Linked DNA regions of Homo sapiens: region 1 is linked to region 2. The links come from fine-mapping of genetic effects on gene expression. A gene starts in region 2. The other region holds a variant in brackets. All regions are shown on one strand. Distances are between the middles of the regions.

Region 1 (12,006 bases), 29 kb before region 2:
AAAGCTAGAAGATCTGGATTAGGGTTAGAGCACTGGAGTTATTTTTAATAATTATGACAGTGGGGTGAAGGGAGTGTCACTGGTATCCAGTGGGTAGAGGCCAGGGATCCTACAGGGCATAGGACAGCCTCCCGCACCCACCCCCATACACACACACACACACACACAACAGAGAATTCCCAGCCGCAAATGTCAGTAGTGCAGATGTTGAGAAACTGCTCTGGATAAACTCTTGTATAAGAATATTTACAGCAACATTTTTGGAGGGGCAAAGGGGAGCTCTGAGGGGTAATAATGAAAGAATGGGAAGGAGACCTGAGGAGTAATAACTGATTGATAAAATGAGAGGGAAGTCTGTGGATTAATAATGAGGGGGTGGGAGGGAAGATTGTGGAGTAATGATGAGGGTATGAGGGAAGTCTGCAGAGTAATAATGAGCAGGTCGGAGGGAAGTGTGAGGAGTAATAATGAGGGACGGGAGGGAAGTCTGAGGAGTAATAATGAGGAGGTAGGAGGGAAGTCTGCAGAGTAATAATGAGGGGTAGGAGGGACATCTGTGGAGTAATAATGAGAGGGCAGAAAAGCCTGTAGAGTAATAAGGAAGGGGTAGGAGGGCCGTCTGCAGAGTAATAATGAGGGATGGGAGGGAAGTTTGACAAGAAATAATGAGAAGGTGAGACGGAAGTCTGAGGAGTAATAATGAGGGGGTAGGAGGGATGTCTGCAGAGTAATAAGGGGGTGGGAAAGAAGTCTGCAGAGTAATGAGCGGGTGAAAGGAAAGTGAGGAGTAATAATGAAGGGGTGGGAGGGAAGTGTGAGGAGTAATAATGAGGGATGGGAGGGAAGTGTGATGAGTAACAATGAGCGGTGGGAGGTAAGTGTGAGGAGTAATAATGAGGGGTTGGGAGGGAAGTCTGAGGAGGAATGAGGGGGGTGGGAGGGAAGCCTGAGGAGTAATAATGAGGGGGTGGGAGGGAAGTGTGAGGAGTAATAATGAGGGATGGGAGGGAAGTCTAAGGAGTAATAATGAACTGGTGGGAGGGAAGTCTCTGGAGTAATGAGGGTGGGTGGATAGATGGGATGGGAGTAGACAGGAGTGAGGTCTGAGGCATAATAAGGTTGTGAATGGGGAGCAAATCTCATGGCAGCATTTTTTATAATAGTGAAAACTGGAACCATCCCAAGTGACCATCCACAGTGCCCTGGAGAAGTAAACTGTGACACACTCACTCGCGCAGTGGTGTAGTATCAGGCAGCAAGGGTGAAGGAACGATAGCTGCAGGCATCAGCAGGGCACGTCATCCAGTTGTTGAGCATGTGACCGTGGAATATGATTCCTTTCATACAGTTGACAGTCGGACCACAAATATTGGCTAGGGGTATTTACATGTGTGGCAAACTGTAGAGATGAGCCAGAGAATGGTTAATACAAACTGTAAGGTGGTGGTAATCTGGGGGGAATGCAGTGAAGGAGAAATGCCTACAGGCTTCTGTGGCACCTGCAAAAGTTCCATTTCGAAACTTGAGGAAGGAGGGACAGATACCTGAATGTTCCTGATTTAAATGTATGGGTATACTTTTGACACTTTTTTATGGATATGTGTCTCCCACATTTCCTTCTATGCTGGGGACACAGTGACAACAGCAGCTAAGGTTTTTAAGAGCTATGTGCATTTGCAACAACCTTGTCAGAAAAGTTACTTTTATTCCTCAAGTTTAAAGACTGCACCCTGGGCCACATGTCTTCTAAGGATGGAGCTGGATTTGAACTTGAACAGGCCAGTGCCGGCCGCCATGCTCCAAACCACCGTTCGGTGCTGCTGCCCCCTGTTGGGGCCCAGTCTCATCTGCTCCACTCTCTCCACAGGGTCAGGAGACAAACAACCAGTCGGCCTCCCCCAGCAGGGGGCAGACCCAAGCCCCAGCCCAAGCCCAAGCCTCAGGTGCCACAGTGCAAGGCTTTGTATGCCTATGACGCTCAGGACACAGACGAACTCAGCTTTAATGCCAATGACATTATTGATATTATCAAAGAAGGTAAGTGTGTGGCTGGTTGGCTGGGACAGCCTCCCAAAGAGCATGCAGTCACATTGCTGTAAGATCTAGTGTGAAAATGAAAAGAATTTATGGGCTCCTCAAACTGCAATTTGTAGAGGCAGGTCAGGCCTCAGGCTCAGTCTGATCAAGACACCAGCTTTTTTAATGCTTCTTTCAGCTCTGCCCCCTTATTTATATTCCCTCCCTTGTCAAGCTGTTTTTCTTCATGGTAGCAAAACGGCAGCAGCAATTCCAGGCCAACATATCAAACCATGTCTGAAATGTGCATCATCTCTGAAACTTCTGTTCTTAGTCATTGGACAAAAGTCCTGACTTTTATTCTGATCAGACCAAATTAGCCATGTGTCCATCCCTGAACCAACTTCAGTAGCAAGACAAAGGCTGTACCCTGAGAGGATGAGACCTGGTAGGGGCTGTCCCCAGAAACGGGGAGGTCTGTCCCACCCACACTTCCTGGCTTCTTCATAATGAAAGTGGATGGAGTGGAAGCCAGGAAGACAACCTTGAATATCCATTATTAAAGCAGTCCATGGGCTTGGCTGAGTGCTTTATTAATTTGGTAGATATCTTACTTTTTTCAACAAACTTTTTGATTTAAAGAACAAAGGGAAAACAACATGGATGGAGCCAAATCACTTGAGCCCATGGGAGCGGAGTGTGTGTGGCTGGGGCAGAACAGACTTTCTCATCTTCACTTCCACCACCTCTCTCTCCCTGCAGATCCTTCTGGCTGGTGGACGGGTCGACTACGAGGCAAGCAGGGCCTGTTCCCCAACAACTATGTGACCAAGATCTGAGGTGCCCGTGACTCTGACACATGGGGCAGAGGAGCTCCAGGCACAGACCAGGGGAGGGGATATTTAGGGGCTCCCCTTACAATCCACAATGAGCAATTGCTTCTCCAAGGCCTGGAGCTATTCTGGTACCTTCCCCATGGAGGACACTGAAAAGGCTGGGTTGGGGACAGGGAGTATCACTCCATAAGTGATCCTAAAAGGTAGCCTCTTCATAGGAACCCAGGAGGACAAAACCACCATGCATTAAGATTTATTTATTGTATTTAAACCTGGTGAGAGGACAAGTGAGGTCTGCTCAGACCTTGTAGGCTTCTATCAAAACAGCACCCTGCTTGCTCACCAGGCCTAGAGAATGGCTGTAGGTGGCCGCTGACAAGTGCCTTTAGTTGAAGAGCACATTTCTTTCATCTCTCTTGTCCATACCTGATAGACACATTCCTCTCTGCCACCTTCCTTCAGGGAGGACCCGCCCTCTGCAGACTGGGCTTAGCGTGAGCAGGCACTTCCCATGTACGTGCCAAGGGTAAGCTGGCCTGCTGAGCCCAGGGCGACAGAGGGGCACTGGTTTACACTTTGCCGGGACCATCAGGGCCGCCAAGCAGGTCAGGGGCTGGGGGCTGGGGGCTGGGCTGCTGGCTTTGCTTTCTCTGGGTCTTCAATTAGAATGTGGCTGGCCCATATTGGTTTGTGTTTAAATGCTGTACTTACTACAAGAAGGATCTTTTTTCAAGCTGTACATTTATAAAAACAGATCATATACTGTATATATAAAAATCTTGAGATGGTAGAAACATGTATGAATGTACTAAGTAGTATTCCACTGTACTCATTCATAAGGTAGGTTTTCTTACAAAACTCACACCAGGTACTTAAAGATGTGCTCTGCTTTTTTCCAACTACGGAGTGTCACTGCTTTCTAGGTCAGTCCCTGCAGACTCTTCTCAACTCTTTCCCTATAGGAAACTTACTCCGCGTCCTGCCCCCACCTCCTAAATAAATAAAGGAATCGGCGAACACCTTCTTCTTTTATGACATTTGTTATGGGTTGAATTGTGTGCCTCCAAAGAAGATGTTGGAGTCCCAGCCACCAGTACCTCACAATATGACCTTATTTGGAAATAGAGTCTTTATGGAGCAAACAAACAAAACTAATTAAAATGAAGTCATTAGAGTGGGTCTTAATCCAATATAATGGTGTCCTGATGAAAAGGGGAAATTTGGACACAGAGACCAACATGCCAGAGGAAAGACCATGTGAAAAGGCAGGGAGAAGACAGCCATTCACAAGCCCTGGACAGAGGCCTGGAACAGATTCTCCCTCACACCCTCACAAGGAACCAGCCCTGCCCACCTTGGTCTTGGACTTCCAACCTCCAGAACTGTGAGGCAATACATTTCGCTGTTTAAGCCACTCGGTTTGTGGTAGTTTGTTACGGCAGCCCTAACAAACTAAAACAATGTTTTCTTGCCATAATAGTGAAAAGCTGGAATCAGTGTAATGCCCATCAATAATGGAATGGTTGTAAGTAGAGACTGCCATTTCTCTACCTTTCCTCCTCTGGGTGCCATAGCCATTCTTAAGCTACTGGTAACTTAGAGTTTGAGCAGCATACACCTTTGAGGCTTTCAGGATCCTCAAGTCCATGGGAAAAAATTATCAGGGCTTACGTATAAGGGAAAAAAATTGATCTAGATTTGAAACGAAGATACATTTAATTCTGCTGTGTTTTACTTCAAGAACAGGGAGCAAACTCCATTCTGTAACAGTAAC[G/A]AATAATGTTAAAAGGCTACTTCAGTTCCATGTTGCGACCAGAGAGGAAAGTAGAGCCATGATGCGGTGAGTTGAGGAAAGGTAATCCTGTTGACACTAGTGGTCTCTAAAGTACTTTCACATTCATGGACTCCCCGCAGTGGGAGGAAGATACCACCAGAACTGGGACAGAGGAGCATGCTGGAGTCCCCACAGCCACCAGCACTCAGGCTGCGTTCTCAGGGCAGGAACACCAGGACCATCTTCCCTTGTTATCATAAGCCCCTGGCTGGCTGGGACAAGCCTTTGTTTTTCCTCCTGATTGATTGATTGGCATTTTACACTTGTGTGTAACTGGGAACCATCGGGCTCTAGGTCACAAAACAGGGACTGAGTTAAACCCCCACGAGTAACACCCTCATCCATGGAAATCACAGACCAAGCCCTTAGCACCTGCATCGTGTGCCCAGCCAGTGCCAGGCTCAAGGAGATGCCCAACAAATGGTGCTGAAATAGGTAAGTGACCCACAGGGGAAGGAGACTTAGATCTGCGTAGAGATGCTGAAATGCTGACACTATTAAGAAAAGTTTGGAGAAATAGTGGTTTATCTTAAACTTATTTGTATATATTTAGAAATTCAACATGGGGACTACCAGAAAAATCTGGGATAAATAACATTTCCCTTTTTTTCCTAATTAAAAAGTCTTCAGAAAAATGTCTTTTTTCCCTTTAAGACACTAACCTGGGTTTCCTCTAGTCTGTGGATCTAGCCTGGCCTGCCATTTTGTTCACTGTGCAGTTAAGCAAATATGACCACTTTAGGAGTCACTTACCAGGAAAGAACATACAGAAGATCAAGGGGCCACCCCCACCTTCTGGAACTTGCCATCCTGTTTGAAATAAGGGGTGTTCATGTGCACACACAGCAACGTGTATAGCAGTATCAAACACAGTATAAAAATGTGACATCCCTTCAACCAAAGGTTTTAAGTAACCAGGAACTAAATGAGAAGGCCTGACTGTGTACCCTAGGGTAGAGGTGTTCAAGCTTTAGTTGTAGAAGAGAGAGAGACAGAGGTCTGTATAAGGGTGGTATCCACTCTACTGATGGCCGTCTGTGAGACAGAGAGAGGCTGATCTGAAACTCCTGGGATCAAACGATCCTCCTGCCTCAGCCTCTCAAAGTGCTGGGATTATGGGCAAGAGCCACCGTACCTGGCCAACTGGCTTAAAGACATGCAAAAGGGCCGTCTCTTCCACAGTGTTTTGTGAAACAATACAGAGACATGTGGAGAGGACAAAGGGTGAAGCCTTCTTGAATAAGCTTGCTCCCCAACCATGAAGGATGCCAACCCACTGACCTCCCAACGTGTGGTCCCAGCCCATCGTAATCAAACCTGACTCCCCACTACTACCAAGTCCAGCCCAATGAAGGTAGAAAAGCATCGTGCAGTTTCCTCCTTAAAGGACCTGCCCTGTGTGCACACCATGTCCACCAATATTCTGCTGGCCAGAGCTTAGTCATGTGGCCTCAACTCAAGGGGGCTGGAGGTCTCTGCACAGAGCTGTCTCAGCAGCTTACCCAGAGCACCAGAGTGACAGCGGGCTCCTGCCAGGTGGAAGTGTTCACAAAAATGAGTAAGAGAAAATATGGATGTGCCTTTATGAATTACAAACTCCATGGGCTTCCATAGAGCATGGCTTTTACATAATCTAAATTCCTTCTCTTTGCGACTCCCTCCTGAACTCATCCCCAGACCCTCCCTGAGTGGAGCTGGTCACACCAAGTCAGCCTGTGCCTCTAGTTGCTACCATTTCTTTTATAGGTGTTGTCCCAGTTAAGATTTCACTGGCAGTAGGGCTGGATTCTGGTTTCCAGGGCAATCAAGAGCAGAGCATGAACGGTGCGTCTTTGGTAGACAATTTAACTCTGTGTTTCTGGCACCCCTCACTTTTGTGATCAAAAGAAAGACCAGAGGAGCCTTTCTGCAATTCTGCCCTCTTTCCCTGTTTTGCTTTTCTCCCAAGGCCTAGCTGATTGATTGCAGTTCTTTCTGGATTTAGTAACTTGGTTTTATTCCTACCCACTAATCTTGATGTCTTTTTCCCTACTAGATCATACCTTTCCACTCTGAGCACCCTTTCTAACAAGAAGACTGGCTCAGTATGGTTCACTAGGTCGCCCAAGGTCACACAGTTCTTCCCTGGGGGAGCCATCACAGGAACTCTGAGTCAAAGGCCTGTGCGTTTTTATTTTCAGACAGCACCTCACTTTGTCACCCAGACTAGAGAACAGTGGTGCGATCATGCCTTACTGCAGTCTCAAACTCCAGGGCTCAGGTGATCCTCCCACCTCAGCCTCCCAAGTAGCTGGGACCACAAGCATGTGCCACCACATTCGGCTAATTATTTGTACAGATGGGGTCTCCCTGTGTTGCCCAGCTGGTCTCAAAGCTCTGGGCTCAAGCAGTCTTCCCGCCTTGGCCTCCCAAAATTCTGGGATTACAAGCATGAGCCACTGTGCCCAAAAGGCCTGTGCTTTTAATCATTTTCTCCAATTCAACAGATATTTAGTAATGTGATGGTCTACTGTGTCAGCCTTTCAACTTCCAATATCTTCCTCTCAGAACATAAAAGTCTATTTAAAAAGAGAGAGAGAAGAAAACTCACGCATAAAACTCAACAGCTAGAAACTTGTAAGCTCCTTTAATGGGCAGGAGCTCCATCTAACAAATCTGAATCCTCTGATTCATCTCTTTCCAAGACCATTAACCTTCTCTTTAAAATAATTAACAGCTATGTTCAAGTATCTTCTTCACACTAGAAGCTATACTAAGTGCTTGGCATACTTTACTTAGCACCACCCTATGAGGGAGACACTCTTATCCCCACTTCACAGGTACAGAAACTAAAGTATAGAGATCACCACTACTTAAAATCAAACCCAAAGCACCCACGTTCAGAGTTAGTGCTCTTCTATACTATGGATACATCATCTCATTTTTAATTTCCGTGTTTTTATGATATGGTTTCTACTTCTGCCACTCATTTCCCATTTATGACATTTTAGTTTGGGGTGCCTGCTGTGCCATCTAAGAAAGTATCTTAAAGGTCTTTTTTTATGACATCCTGGAAGAATTTCCTAAGTCAGGACATTTAATATTTAACTAAGTAAAATATGTAATAAGGAAGCTATAAAATGTCTTTGGAATATGCTTACAAAACTCAGGCGTTCTTGGAGAGAAGTTGAGCTCAAGCATCTCTGGGAAGTAACTGCTTGTCAGAGCCAGGAAAGCTCCCTTTCATGGTCTCACTTCGTTACCATTCACACTTGTGATCAGAGTTGTCCAAGGCTGCCATGGGAACAAGCTTCACTAACCCAATAAGGGATATTCATAAAACTCTATACTAGGATTTCAGCATATAAAGATACCCAAAACTTACAGTTAAAGACATACTAGTCAGGCAGTCCTGCCTGCCCAGGAAGAGAGTAAAAAGCCAGCCCTAACTGGAGCCAGTTTCTCCTCCCCAGGGGCAGTTGTCCTCAAGCTGCACCTGAATCAAAAGAGCAGACGCTGAATTTCTCTGTCAGCAAGAGGCAACCACACTCTAGGTTGGGGAAAATAACTGAGATAAATGAGTTTACTGCAAAGCACAGAACCTTTATGAATCTTCCAATCATTTGCAATGTTTCACAAGTGTATTTGACTAACTAACTCCTTTCTCTTACAACACCAATTAACATCTTGTTAAACCAACGTCTTGGGAAGTTGTTTTTATACGAGACTCACTATGTTTATGGTTTTTGTTTTTAAGTCAATGGTTGGAGGCTGAGGATGCACTCCCCCCGTAGAAAACAATGTTCGAGCGTCCCAGATCGACCTCAGACTGCTGAGCTAGCAGTGAGAATTTCAAGCCAATGGGTGTTAGCTTGCTGGGCTCCGTGGGGGTTGGACCTGACGAGCCAGGCGCCACAGGGAATCTGCTGGTCTGCCGCCGGTTGTGAAGACTGGGAAAAGTGCAGTGTCTGGGCCGGAGTGTACCTTTCCTCCAGGTACAGTCTCTCACGGCTTCCCTTGGCTAGGAAAGGGAAATCCTCCGACCCCTTGCGCTTCCCGGGAAAGGCAACACTCCACCCTACTTCTGCTCGCCCTCCATGGGCTGCACCCACTGTCCAACCAGTCCCAATGAGATGAACCAGGTACCTCAGTTGGAAACGCAGAAATTACCTGCTTGGTTGGGGGAGGGGTGCCTGCCATTGCTGAGGCTTGAGTAGGTGGTTTTACCCTCACAGTGTAAACAAAGCTGCCCGGAAGTTCAAACTGGGCAGAGCCCACTGCAGCTCAGCCAGGCTGCTGCAGCCATACTGCCTCTGTAGATTTCCTCTTTCCTGGGCAGGGCATCTCTGAAGATACGGCAGCAGCCCCAGTCAGGGACATATACATAAAACCCCCATCTCCCTGGGACAGAGCACCTGGGGGAAGGGGCGGCTGTGGGCACAGCTTCAGCAGACTTAAAAGTCCCTACCTGAGAGCTCTGAAGAGTGCAGCAGATTTCCCAGCACAGCATTCGAGCTCTGATAAGGGACAGGCTGCCTCCTCAAGTGGGTCCCTGACCCCCGTGTATCCTGTCTGGGTGACACCTCCCAGTAGGGGCCGACAGACACCTCATAGAGGAGAGCTCTGGCTGGCATCTGACGGGTGCCCCTCTGGGAGGAAGCTTCCAGAGGAAGGAACAGGCAGCAATCTTTGCTGTTCTGCAGCCTCCGCTGGTGATACCCAGGCAAACAGGGTCTAGAGTGGACCTCCAGCAAACTCCAGCAGACCTGCAGAAAAGGGGCCTGTTGCAAGGAAAATTAACAAACAGAAAGGAATAGTAGCAACATCAACAAAAAGGACGTCTACTCAGAGACCCCATCCGAAGGTCACCAACATCAAATACCAAAGGTAGATAAATCCACGAAGATGGGGAGAAACCAGCACAAAAAGGCTGGAAACTCCAAAAACCAAAAAATGCCTCTTCTCCTCCAAAGGATCACAACTCCTCACCAGCACGGGAACAAACCTGGACAGAGAACAAGTTTGACAAACTGACAGAAGCAGGTTTAAGAAGGTGGGTGATAAACTCCTCCGAGCTAAAGGAACCTGTGCTAACCCAATGCAAGGAAGCTAAAAACCTTGAAAAAAGATTAGACGAATCGCCAACTAGAATAACCAGTTCAGAGAAGAACATAAATGATCTAATGGAGCTGAAAAACACAGCACAAGAACTTCATGAAGAACACACAAGTATCAATAGCCAAATCAAGCAGAATAAAGGATATCAGAGATTGAAGATCAACTCAATGAAATAAAGCGAGAAGACAAGATTAGAGAAAAAAGAGTAAAAAGAAACTAACAAAGCCTCTAAAAAATATGGGACTATGTGAAAAAACCAAATATACATTTGAGTGGTGTACCTGAAAGTGACAAGGAGAATAGAACCAAGTTGGAAAACACTCTTCAGGTTATTTATCCAGGAGAACTTCTCCAACCTAGCAAGGCAGGACAACATTCAAATTCAGGAAATACAGAGAACACCACAAAGATATTCCTCGAGAAGAGCAACCTCAAGACACATAATCATCAGATTCACCAAGGTTGAAATGAAGGAAAAAATGTTAAGGGCAGCCAGAGAAAAAGGTTGGGTTACCCACAAAGGGAAGCACATCAGACTAACAGCAGATCTCTCAGCAGAAACCCTACAAGCCAAAAGAAAGTGGGGGCCAATATTCAACATTCAAAGAATTTTCAACCCAGAATTTCATATCCAGCCAAACTAACCTTCATAAGCGAAGGATAAATAAAATCCTTTACAGGCAAGCAAATGCTGAAAGATTTTGTCACCACCAGGCCTGCCTTACAAGAGCTACTGAAGGAAGCACTAAACATGGAAACGAACAACTGGTACCAGTCACTGCAAAAACATACCAAATTATAAAGACCATGGACACTATGAAGAAACTGCATCTACTAACGGGCAAAATAGCTAGCATCATAATGACAAAATCAAATTCACACATAACAATATTAACCTTAAATGTAAACGGGCTAAATGCCCCAATTAAAAGACACAGACTGGCAAATTGGATAAAGACTCAAGACCCATCATTGCGCTGTATGCAGGAGACCCATCTCACACACAAAAACACACATAGCCTCAAAATAAAGGGATGGAGGAATATTTACCAAGCAAATGGAAACCAAAAAAAAAAAAAAAAAAGCAGGGGTTGCAATCCTAGTCTCTGATAAAACAGACTTCAAATGAACAAAGATCAAAAGAGACAAGGCATTACATAATAGTAAGGGGATCAATGCAACAAGAAGAGCTAACTATCCTAAATATATACACACCCAATACAGGAGTACCCAGATTCATAAGGCAAGTTCTTAGAGACCTACAAGGAGACTTAGACTCACTCCCACACAATAATAGTGGGAGACTTTAGCACCCCACTGTCAACACTAGACAGATCAATGAGACAGAAAATTAACAAGGACATCCAGGACTAGAACTCGGCTCTGGATCAGGCAGACCTAACCATCATCTACAGAACTCTCCACCACAAATCAACAGAGTATACATTCTTCTCAGCACCACATCACACTTATTCTAAAATTCACCACATAATTGGAAGTAAAACACTCCTCAGCAAGTGCAAAAGAATGGAAATCATAACAGTCTCTCAGACCACAGTGCAATCAAATTAGAACTCAGGATTAAGAAACTCACTCAAAACCGCACAACTAAATGGAAACTGAACAACCTGCTCCTGAATATCTACTGGGTAAATAACGAAATGAAGGCAGAAATAAAGATGTTCTTTGAAACCAATGAGAACAAAGACACAAGGCACCAGAATCTCTGGGACACATTTAAAGCAGTGTGTAGAGGGAAATTTATAGCACTAAATGCCCACAAGTGAAAGCAGGAATGATCCAAAATCGACACTCTAACATCACAATTAAAAGAACCAGAGAAGCAACAGCAAGCATATTCAAAAGCTAGCAGAAGGCAAGAAATAACTAAGATCGGAGCAGAACTGAAGGAGACAGAGACACAAAAAAACCCTTCAAAAAAAATCAGTGAATCCAGGAGCTGGTTTTTTGAAAAGATCAACAAAATTTCAAAGACCGCTAGCCAGACTAATAAAGAAGAAAAGAGAGAAGAATCAAATAGACACAATAAAAAATGATAAAGGGGATATCACCACCAATCCCACAGTAATGTAAACTACCATCAGAGAATACTATGAACACCTCTACGCAAATAAACTAGAAAATCTAGAAGAAATGGATAAATTCCTGGACACACACACGCTCCCAAGACTAAACCAGGAAGAAGTCGAATCCCTGAATAGA
Region 2 (12,006 bases):
CAATCAAGCAGTCAACAACAAAAGCCACTAGGATAAGACAAAGATTCTTGCCCTGGCCCTTAATTTAGAATTCCTTGAAAGCATTCATTTTGAACTCCAACATAATTTAATTATTGTAAGACCCTTTCTAAGATCCTACTCATCTGGTCAGGTAATCTGTTCTAGCTATGACTCCTCAGTACCTCTCATAAGCATGCATCTCTCTTTGTGACAGATAAAGCCATACTTCTACTCCTATGTCCTCCAACTTGACTGGGAGCTCCTCTAGACAGAATCGATGGTTTATTCAACTTGTTTCCCCAGTGTCCAGCAAACATGGGACTAGTAGAAAGCCTTCCATGTCCTTTCTAACTACTGTGTTTACCAAAGCCTCATTAATCAGCAAAAAACACCATTTTCTCCAAAACCTGCAGGATAATAAGCTTCTATGACTACCTGTAAAGGGCTGGAACTCTTCCGAGGTCTCAGCCAGGGCACTTTGTGATTCAGTTGTGTCAACTGCTACAGAGAAAGAAACCTGCCCTCCAGTTTTGCAAAAAGGATAGTATAAATTTGGTTAGAAGACTGGGAACATCTCCTATCATGGACACATGGCTTATGTTATCACCTTTCCAGGAAAATTGATAGAAACCTGTGCACTCAAGTGGCATTTCCACACCTCCAGGGATTGGCTCTAAAGAACAGTGATAACCCTGCAGATAAAGCAGATGACAAAGTAAAAGCCAGAAGGCTGACCAGAGACAGGCAGGCAGAGAGACTCACCTGCTAGAAGGTGGGACTCTACCTAAATCGTGGACTTAGAGATTCCTTCACTACTTTCTCAGAGGGAAATGTATTTGAATTGGAAATAATTCCTGTTCATTAATTCCTCATAACTTCTAAATCTAGAACATGTAGCTATATGTTTCAACCCTGGAATTGATTTTTATATGAACTGAGCTACGGGTCCATAATGCTTTATCTCAAACAGTGGCCTCAATTTTGCCAGGAAGCAAGAGAAAAAGGAGTCAGCCAAGGAGTAAAGGAAACACAAAAAGGATGAAGTTATGGAGGTCACAGGAGGAAACTATTTTTCCCTTTGTTTCTTTAGTAACATATTTATGGTCTTTGCTTTTAAAAAAAGAAAAAAAAAAGCCTTCTTTTCTTCTTCTCTAACTTGAACAGTAATATGTACCCATGGTAAAAGTTTGAAGTTTTTTGTTTTTGTTCTTGTTTTGTTGTTGTTGTTTTTTGAGACAGAGTCTCGCTGTCGCCCAGGCTGGAGTGCAGTGGCACAATCTCGGCTCACTGCAGGCTCCGGCCCCCAGGGTTCACGCCATTCTCCTGCCTCAGCCTCCCAAGTAGCTGGGACTACAGGCGCCCACCACCTCGCCCGGCTAATTTTTTGTATTTTTAGTAGAGACGGGGTTTTACTGTGTTAGCCAGGATGGTCTCGATCTCCTGACCTCGCGATCCGCCCGCCTCGGCCTCCCAAAGTGCTGGGATTACAGGCGTGAGCCACTGCACCCGGCCAAAGTTTGACGTTTTAAGGAAGAAAATGAAAGTCAATCTTAAGTCCAACATAATATTCAAAAATAACTACCATCAATATTCTGCATACAAATGTACATTTTAAAAGCAAATCTGGGGTTGCACTGTTTATATATTGTTATAATCTGATTTTTCCACTTAATGTTACAAGCATTTTGATGCCTTTAAATATTCTACTAAAACATGATATTTATGGCTGCATAGTATTTCCTTAAATGGATTTAACTAGGGTATTTCTCTACTCTATAAGAGACACTCATCATAGCACTATCTAAAAGTACTTGATTATCCCTCTGATCATTTTCTTTGGATAAAAAACAAAGCTACTGGGTATGGAGAATAACCATTTGAAATATACTACCGCCAGGCGCAGTGGCTCACACCTGTAATCCCAGCACTTTGAGGGGCGGGGGCAGGTGGATCACCTGAGGTCAAGAGTTGGAGACCAGCCAGGCCAACATAGTGAAAATCAGCTGGGCATGGTAGCATGCACCTGTAATCCCAGCTACTCGGGAGGCTGAGACAGGAGAATCGCTTGAACCCGGGAGGCGGAGGTTGCAGTTAGCAGAGATCGAGCCACTGAACTGCAGCCTGGGCGACAGAGCAAGACTCCGTCCCCCCCCAAAAATATATACATATACTGCCAAATCGCCCTCCTGCGATGTGGGAGGAACCACATTCAAACCATTACACATGTAAAACACTGCACAACTGCTAAGAGATCAAGGTCTGAAAACCAGCCTTTGGGTTTGGCTTTCAGGAGGTCACTGTTATAGAAACCTTCTAGGGAAGGCTTTTTAAATGAAGTCCCATCTCAACTACTTTTTCTAAGCTTTAGTTCTCATAAAGAGCAAAGAGCTTTCAACCATCATCTCTGTGAAGAAAGCTGACAAATCTGTTCCTTGCCTTCAGATGTTGCTGCCACATTTCCAACTGCATTTCCAGGCAGATGTCCCTCGGTTACCTCAACAAATCGGAAGCCAAACAGGATACCTTTACCAAAGCTACCGCCCTCTCCTGACTTTCCTACTTTTTGTTCATTTATTGCATAAATGGTTTATTTAATATCCAAGTGGGTAAGGATACCACTCCTGCAGTGCAAGCCATGTGTCCAAAGTATTCTTTCCTAAATACAAGATGAAAGACATTCTGAGACATCCTAACACATTTGATGTTGTTTCTTCATACCCACTATTGATACTGGTGTATGGGTAGGCGCTTAGGGAAGATCTGGGCTAGCTCCAGACCCTCATCAGCTCTTGCTTGGATAAGTGCAATACCTCCTAACTTACCTCCCTACATTGTTTTCATCATTTCGGTACTCCTCAAAACTTTGTTTCCTCAAGCCTAATGGGATAAAAATCCAAATTCCAAGTCCTTCAAATCCAACTGCAACCTTCTTCCCAGCCTTATCTTCTGGTTCCTCACTCAAGCCGCCTGACTCAGTTAAGTCTTTCAGACTCCTTAACGAAAGGACATGATTATAGGTCCATATCCGCTTTGGTACCTTGATCTTTGTTGCTACTTTGTTCTCCACAAACGTGCCCTTTCCTGTCAGCTATCATCTTCTCTCTACCCCTAAAAATCTCACTCATTCCATGAATTTTCTGAACCATTCTGTCCTTTATTTGGGTATTAAGGTAATCAACTTTATTATTCAGGGTCGTAATATTTATTTTTTTTTTTCAGAGACAAGGTCTTGCTCCGCTGTCCAGGCTAGAGTGCAGTGGCACCATTATAGCACATTGCAGCCTTGAATTCCTGGCCTCAGGCGATCCTCCTGCCTCAGCCTCTCAAAGTGCTGAGATTACAGGCATAAGCCACCATGCCCAGCTTCAAGGTCATAATGTTATTAAGTTAAAAGGTGTATATACTCATTTCCTACACTATTGCTTCAAAGCAGAGCTCCAGCTATGAATGTTCGTTAGAAGGTACAGCAATGATAAAGGCACCCTTGTAGTCTGGCTAAAAACAGGCTACCTCATTAAATACGTTTGTAAATTCAGAACTTCCTACCTTTGGAGCCAACTTTTCCATCTGTACTGGTTTGACAGAAGCAGTAGGTTTCAGTTGTTTGTTGACATTTGTTGTTTTGGTGGGTTGAACTGGAACTTTGGTGTTCTGAGCTTTCTATAAGGAAAAAGAAACATGAATAGCGCAAGACAGCCAGCGTTGTGGGACTCAGCACTATACAGAATCGGCCTCTGTATTCACATTCAGTCTTCATCATTGTTACCTTAGCTACTTGTGCTGCTCTGGTTGTAACTCTATTTCCAATTTCTTCTAAAACAGTTCGCCTAATAGTCACATGACTCTTAACTTTAGAATTAACTCCTGTGTCAATATTCTCCAAATCACTGGACACCTGAAAAAAAAAAAAAAAAGTAATGAAACCTTGAAAGAATTTGAAATACTTTGCTAATGTTAGATACTCAAATTTAGAATTGCTTTGGGAAAGGACAATACGTCAAGATCTATTTGCAAGATGGAAAAGGTACATTTCAGGAAGTCTAAAAATGCTATTTGTGATTAATAACATCACTCTAAATTAGGCAAATCACCCATCTACTTTATCCGTAATAAAGATCCTCCCACTAACCTTGCAAAGCTATTCTGAGTATTCAAGTGGGCCTGTAAGAGAACTTCAAAGCTTATTAGTATTTAATGATTATTTCTCATATAGTACCCATATCACTTGTTAGAGATCCCTGCAAGTTAAAGGCATATATTTAAAAACCTTCCTTTACAGAGCTTGGTAAAAAGTAAATTAAGATGAAAAATAATAAAGCTATAATATTAATAGTTAATAATAGGTCTGGTTGTTTAAAAACCAGATGTTTAAAACCTAAACTAGCTTTGATTCTTATGCCATTTCACAAATAAGAAATGCTCCTGTATGCATGATCTTTTAGAACTACAGCTTTTTAAAATGAGGTTGCCATAGAATGGATTTTCTCTTATATTAAGGACATTTAGAATGGAAGTAGTTTTCTTGAGTAATATAGTTTTAGCTCCCAAACTCAGGGAAGGTTGGAATTGTATGAAATAAAAATTGTCAGTTGACCTTAACCTGCTTTAGACATAATGTGCTTGGAAATAAAACTTGCTAGGAAAAGCAACTCATACCAAAAAAAGTTTATTATAGAAGTGATAAACATTTCATTAAAAAAGAAAAAAGCAAAAAACCAGCATGTCCTATCCCTGAGAGTTCAGGGTCCCGACTCTAATAAAACTCCCAACAAGGGGTTTGAGTGGATCTACCAGGCAGAGAGAGGGGCCAGGGAAACTCAAGCCTTCCCTGAACAGAAAGGTTTTGACTATTAAATAACGTTATAGAATACATTATTATAAAAAATTACTTGTCAGTTGGACTTAGATCCACAAAAGGATATTAATTAAATGCTAAATGTATTCAATCTATTAGGATTCTCAAAAGTCACACTTCAATTTCTTCCAGCAGCAACTGCCAATCTGAAAAAGTGTTTGAAAATGTAATGCTTATGGGTAGAAGCCTGGTAATGTGACTCAATTTAAATTCATCTGGATAGGAAAATTGGCAGCTTTTATCTAACCTTATAGCCAAGATGATGGAACTCAGGTGTGTCAGGGCCCTCTAGCTTTCGGCAAAGGAAAAAAGTAGGTCCCGGTACAATTCAAGCCCACAGGAAAAATACCCAAAACACCATAACACTTTGATCTCTGCAAGGATGAAATAAATGAATTTGGACCCTTTTCTCTCAGTCTGCCACATTGGTCCAAATTATATTCAAAAACCTCTGTTACATTTGAGTAAAGAAATTAATTTTTTAAGGGGACAAACCCATTTATTAGTGAACGTAGCATGGAAGACTTAGCGTGCCGAAATAAATGGGAAACTCATACAAAAAGAAATGTGAACAATCTGAAAAACAGCCTGGCAGTTGCCTGATGAAACACGCCGTACACTTTACTGCCTACAGAACCCTTCCAGTCCTCCTCCCAGCCGCCATCACAGGTCCCTTAGTTGGCAAGGAGTTGTAAGAAAGGGGGAGGGAAATCCCAGGAACGTGGAAGTAGATAACTCTCTAGCAATGAAGAGCACTCGGGGATCGCTCGCTGAGTACTAGGCCTAGTGCTCTGGGGGCTCACTTGACAGGCGCCATCTCGGAAGCGCTTTCCTACACTTCTCCCACCCCGGGGCAGGGAGGGGTTAGGGGAGGGCGGAATCCAGACGGGGAAAGGCGGGCCGGAGAGGACCGGCCGCAGGGCCAGGGACGCGGGCGAAGCAGTGAGCTCCGGAGAAGAGAAAAGCAGCCCCGGTTGGGACGGAGAAGCTCGGAGCAGATGAGAGAAGCGACAGGGGAGCTGTGGGGCCGACGGACTCGCCTCTGAGAGCGGTCCCCGGGCACACTCACCGTCGGGCGTCGGAGCAGCGCCATGAGGGACGGGGAAGGCAAGAGTGCCAGCCCGGCCCAGGGAGGGACGCGGACTGAAAAGGGAGGACACTAGCGTACGAGGCGCCGTTAGGACTGCTCTCCGAGCCCGCAGCGCTGGGGATCTTCGACGCTGTAGCCTTGTTCCAGGATTCAAATACCGCGTCGCTTGCGCCCCATTGGGCGGCCCTGCGCACGGGTCGCTGTTCTCATTGGCCAACACAAGATGCACTCTCGCACTCTCATTGGCTGAATTTTCTTAGACACGTTTGATTGTCACAACAGCCGGTTGGGGTGTTTTTTCTGCCTACAGTCTTTTAAAAAAAAAAAAACCCCAGTCTCTGAGACAAACAAAAAGGAACTGTCTCATTGGGAAAGCAGACGTAGGACGCCTCTGAATTTTGACAAGGCCTCATCTACGAATTTCTCTCGACGTTTGTAGTGGGTGGGCGGAAGTTGGTTGGCCTTTATTCCTCTTCTGGTGTGTTGGGGTTTAAGTTGTGTTGGCCTGGGTGCAGGAACCGGCCCCTCCGGGTTGCTCAGGGATGCAGTGTGTTAGGTGGTTGAGATGCAAAAGTGTGCTTAAAAAAAGAGAGAATAATGGCGTTTACTCAAAAACCCAAATTCTCAAGTAAGGCAAAAAAAAAAAAAAAAAGATAAAAGAGATTTGTGTGACTGGTGATTCATGTAAGTTCTCCATTGTATTCCCAACACCTAGTACATCGTTTGTCGTATATGGTTGGTGCTCAATAAATGTTCGTCTAATAATCAGCCCAAGCAAAGAATTCATGTCTAAGACCCCAAAAGCAAATGCAACAAAAACAAAAATACATAAATGGGACCTAATTAAACTAAAAAGCTTCTGCACATCAAAAGAAATAATAGACAACCACAGATTAAGAGAAAATATTTGCAAACTATGCATCGGAAAAAGGCCTAGTGTCCAGAATCTAGAAGGAACTCAAATCAGCAAGAAAGAAAATAATGCCATCAAAAAATGGGCAAAGGACATGAATAGATATTTCTCAAAAGATATTCAAATGGCCAACAAATACATGAAAAAATGCTCAACATCACTGATCATCGAAGAAATGCAAGTTAATACCACAAGGAGATACCACCTTACTCCTGCAAGAATGGCCATCATTAAAAAGTCAGAAAAAAAGGCCGGGCGCAGTGGCTCACACCTGTAATCCCAGCACTTTGGGAGGCCTGTTGGGCAGATCATTTGAGCCCAGGTGTTCAAGACCAGCCTGGGCAACATGGCAAAACCCCGTCTCTACAAAAATACAAATATTAGCCGGGTGTAGTGGTGAGCACCTGTAGTCCCAGGTACTGGGAGGGGGGCGGGGGGCGGGGGGCGGGGGGCCGTGTGTTGGGGCAGGAGGATCCCTTGATCCCATGAGTCTGAGGCTGCAGTGAGCCATGATTGTGCCACAGTACTCCAGCCTGGGCAACACATTGAAACCCTGTCTAAAAAAGAAAAAAAACCTCAAAAAACAATAGTCAAAAAACAGTGTAGGCGTGGATGTGGGGAAAAGGGAATGCTTAAACACTGCTGGTAGGAATGTACAACTTCTATGGAAAAAAGTATGGTGATTCCTTAAAGAACAAAAAGTAGTTCTACCATTTGGTCCAGCAATTCCACTACTGGGTATCTACCCAAAGGAAAAGAAGTCATTATATGAAGAAGACACTTGCACATGTATGTTTACAGCAGCACAATTCACAATTGCCAACCTAAGTGCCCATCGACCGAGTGGGTACAGAAAATGTGGTATATATACACCATGGAATACTACTCAGCAATAAAAAGGAACAAAATAATGTCTTTTGCAGCAACCTGGATGGAGCTAGAGGCCATTATTCTAAGTGAAGTAACTCAGGAGTGGAAAACCAAAAACCGTATGTTTTCACTTGTAAGTGGGAGCTAAGCTGTGAATATACAAAGGCAAACACAGTGATATAATGGAATTTAGAGACTCAGAAGAGGGAGGGTGGAAGGGGAGACAGGGATAGAAACCTACATATTAGATAAAATATACACTACCTAGGTGATGGGCACACTAAAATCTCAGAATTCACCACTATATAATTCACCCACATCACAGAAAGCCACTTATATCCCAAAAGCTACTGAAATAAAATTTAAGTGTATTAATTAAAAAATATTCATCTAATAAATGATCTTATGATGTATGTAAGATTTAAGAATGAAAAACAAGGTGTGACACCAGTCTTGAGCAGAAGAGTGGGAGGATTAGCACAGTCCAAAGAGAACAGTATTAATGTTGCCCTTGTAAAAAGAAGCAGGTGAAGATCAAGACAGAAAAAGAAACAGGAAAGGAAAAAGTGAGATTAATGGGAAAAGAGAAGGAAAAGAGGAAAGGAGTGATCTAACACCCATGATATCAGGTTCCATTAAGAATCTGAAGGCCTGGCATGGTGGCTCACACCTGTAATCCCAGCACTTTGGGATGCTGAGGCAGGTGGATCACTTGAGGTCAGGAGTTCAAGATCAGCCTAGCCAACATGGTAAAAACCAGTCTCTATTAAAAATACAAAAATTAGCTGGGCGTGGTGGTGCAGGCCTCTAATCCCAGCTACTCGGTAGGCTGAGGCAGGAGAATCGCTTGAACCTGGAAGACAGAGGTTGCAGTGAGCCGAGTTCGCACCACTGCATTCCAGCCTGGGCAACAGAGTGAGACTCTGTCTCAAAAATAAATAAATAAAAATTTGACCGAGCTTTCCCATCATTCTTAAATGGTTCTGTTACTTGGGGACGAATAATCAGTGTGGTTGGACGAGACTTATGTAAAGTTAAATTCCTAAATTGCCTCAATCCCTATTGGTTGGAGGGCATCTGACAGTTCTGAACTTGTTTCCTCTTAGGTGAAACAGGAATAATTGCAGCTACTATGTGAAAAGATGTTAGCCTATCCATAATCATCCCATAACTAAAAACTAGGTATCCTATGGAAAAGTCTTGGAAAAGAAAAATAGATGTTTTAGTGCACTGAAGTTGTAAAATATTTTTGCTTTATGTTGATATGTTATCAAAAGATACAACCATAAAAGTGACAATGCTTGCTTACTCATAGGGCTTTTTTATGAACGGTAAAGGTGCTTTCTTATTTATTTATTTTTGTCGGGGTCTTGCTCTGTTGCTCAGGCTGGAGTGCAGTGGTGCAGTCACGGCTTACTGCAGCCTCGAACTCCTGGTCTCACACCATTCTCCTGCCTCAGCCTCATGAGTAGCTGGGACTACAAGTATATGCCACCACTCCCAGCTAATTTTTAAAAATTTTTGTAGAGACAGGGTCTCACTGTGTTGCCTAGGCTGGGCATAGTGCTTTTATTAACCGACTTGACATTGTCAAAATTGAGTAATTGAATCTGTATTAACACGTTTTATTTTATTTTTTATTTTTTGAGAAGGCGTCTTGCTCTGTTGCCCAGGCTGGAGTGCAATGGTGCAATCATGGCTCACTGAAGCCTTGACCAGCCAGGTTCAAGTGATTCTCCCACCTCAGCCTCCTGAGGATCTAGGACCACAGGAGTGAGCCACCTCACCGAGCTAATTTTTTTATTTGTAGAGAGGAGGTCTTGCTATGTTGCCAGGTTGGTCTCAAACTCCTGAGCTCAAGAGATCCTCCGGCTTTGGCCTCCCAAAGTGCTGAGATTACAGGTGTTAAAAATGAAGATAATATTTCTTATTTTGTACTTCTCACTGTAACTAACCTAAAACCTTACACACAAACTTCTTGTTTTGAGACAGGGTCTCCCTCTGTCACCCAGGCTGGAATGCAGCAGTGTGATCACAGCTCACTGCAGCCTCAATCCCCCGGGCTCAAGTGATCCTCCTACCTCAGCCACCCGAGTAGCTGGGACTACTCGGCTGGCTGATTTTTAAATGGTTTGTACAGATGGGGGTCTCACTATGTTGCCTAGGCTGATCCCGAACTCCTGGGCTCAAGTGATCCTCCTGCCTCAGCCTCCCAAAGTGCTGGAATGAACCACCATGCCCAGCCCATCCATAAATTTCTTTTTTTCAAATATCACCCTAGGAGGCCTGGCATGGTGGCTCATGCCTGTAATCCCAGCACCTTGGGAGGCCAAGGCGGGTGGATCACCAGGTCAGGAGATGGAGACCATCCTGGCTAACACAGTGAAACCCCTTCTCTACTAAAAATACAAAAAAAAAAAAAAAAAAATTAGCCAGGCATGGTGGCGTGTGCCCGTAGTCCCAGCTACTTGGGAGGCTGAGTGGCGGACGTTGCAGTGAGCCAAGATCACGCCACTGCACTTCAGCCTGGGTGACAGAGTGAGACTCTGTCTCAAAAAAATAATAATAATAATAAATCAATCACACTGGGAAACGGAAAGTTCTTTCACTGCTGATTCCTCTGAGAATATAAATCATTTTGCACATGCGCTTCTCTATATGCAAAGCTTTGGTTTGGGGGGAGAAGTAAATGCGTTCAGAAAGCTTGTGCTAGGTATTCTAACAAAACAATGGGGCTTGTTTTACCTCACTGTGGTGGATGAAAGAGTGCCCCCCTTTTTTTTTTTTTTTTTTTTTTTGCAGTGCCTTCTGTGAACAGGTGTAATCTATTTTCTCTCTCCTTAAATTTGGGCTAGCCTTGTTATTTACTTTAACCAACAGAATGTGAAAGAAGAGATGCTGTTCCAGTAACAGGATTGGGTCTTAGGAAGCAGTTTATTTCTCCCTTGGAGTCCTGCGTCACCACCATAGAGACCCAAGCTATTCCTTTCTAGAGATGACATTGAGAGAAATGCCCAGCGCATTATCACCTGTCCTAACCATCCCAGCTAACGCGTCAGATATGCAAGGTGAGGCCACGTGGACACTGTCTCAGTAGAACTTGCAGCTGAATGTAGCCACATGAGGAAACGTCATACCACAGTGAAAGATGAGCTATGCCTGCCCAGCACCGCCCAAATCACGCAACTGTGAGCAAATAAATGTGTTTTATAAACCACTCAATTTGGGGGTGGTTTGTTACAAAACAGGTAACAAATACACTTACCTGGGGGCATTCCAAGTCGTTGCACCAAATAAGCTTTTCGTTTGCTGGAATAGTCTTATCATCTTGGTTTCACAGGGGGATCACAGTTTAAGAAAACATAGCACAGTATCTGTGATTTCTGATCATTTGTAAACTGAATTCTCAATGATGTTATCCTGGTAGATTTTTCATATGGGAAATTTGAGTTGCCTTCGTCATTTCAAAGAGATATTTTGGCATTTGGTTATCTCCTGCAGGTAAAAGAAATCATCTGGTGCTGAACTATGGATCAGATGTAATTCAAAGCCTTAGGAAGCACTGAGGCCAGTCTGATAGAATGTTTACCACCATCACTTGAGTTCAGGAGTTTGAGACCAGCCTGGCCAACATGGTGAAACCCCGTCTTTACTAAAAACTACAAAAAATTAGCTGGGTGTGGTGGCAGGCACGAGTAATCCCAGCTACTCGGGAGGCTGAGACAGGAGAATCGCTTGAACCCGGGAGACAGAGGTTGCAGTGAGCTGAGATTGCACCCCTGCACTCAAAAAAAAAAAAAAAGAATTTTTGCCCACAGAAGTTTACATGTTTGAAGCTGGGTCTTGATATACGGGATAAGAGTGTTTTCACAATTTGTACACAAATCCTTGGCTACACCTTTCTTCAAATGGTGGAACCTAGTTCACCACCTCGAGTATAGCCTGCCCTTAGTTACCCTCATTTCTAAGAAATAGAATGTGGCAGAAAGGACAAAGTGTAACTTCTGAGACTAGATCAAAAAGTGGCATGTGGCTTCCTCCTGGCTTTCTCTGGGATCAGTAGTTCTGGGTAAAACAAGTTACCCTGTTGTAAAGACATTCTAGCAGCTCTCTGGAGAGGCTCCTGTAGCAAAGAAGTGAACTCTCTCAGTAGCCAGTGAGGAGCTGAGACTGCCTGTCAACAGCCTGGGGACTGAGCAATCTTAGAAATGGATTGTCCAGACCCAGTGATGCCCTCAGATGACTTGTAGACCAACAGTGTGCAGAAGGGTAGATTTT

Alleles and levels. Positions count from the first base shown, and alleles are read on the strand shown. Sizes are in standard deviations (SD) of each study's normalised expression.
With allele G in place of A in region 1, the expression in tibial nerve of the gene that starts at base 6,071 in region 2 is higher (small effect, 0.31 SD a copy in GTEx).

What was found.
Region 1: its variant is fine-mapped to the expression of CCNB2 in tibial nerve (GTEx, PIP above 0.99).

Annotation. Positions count from the first base shown.
Region 1 is chr15:59,128,229-59,140,234 of GRCh38, reverse strand. MYO1E (myosin IE) reads left to right here. Exons shown (of 28, transcript NM_004998.4): 27 at 1,868-2,037; 28 at 2,779-7,801. The coding sequence ends at 2,855. Among named protein-coding and RNA genes, the nearest start is that of CCNB2, 29 kb to the right of the region's middle. RefSeq lists enhancers at 1,731-2,025, 8,300-8,799. The variant G/A (reference allele first, on the strand shown) is at 4,627.
Region 2 is chr15:59,099,211-59,111,216 of GRCh38, reverse strand. CCNB2 (cyclin B2) reads right to left here and starts at 6,071. Exons shown (of 9, transcript NM_004701.4): 1 at 5,925-6,071; 2 at 3,767-3,895; 3 at 3,547-3,660. The coding sequence starts at 5,948. RefSeq lists an enhancer at 6,259-6,548.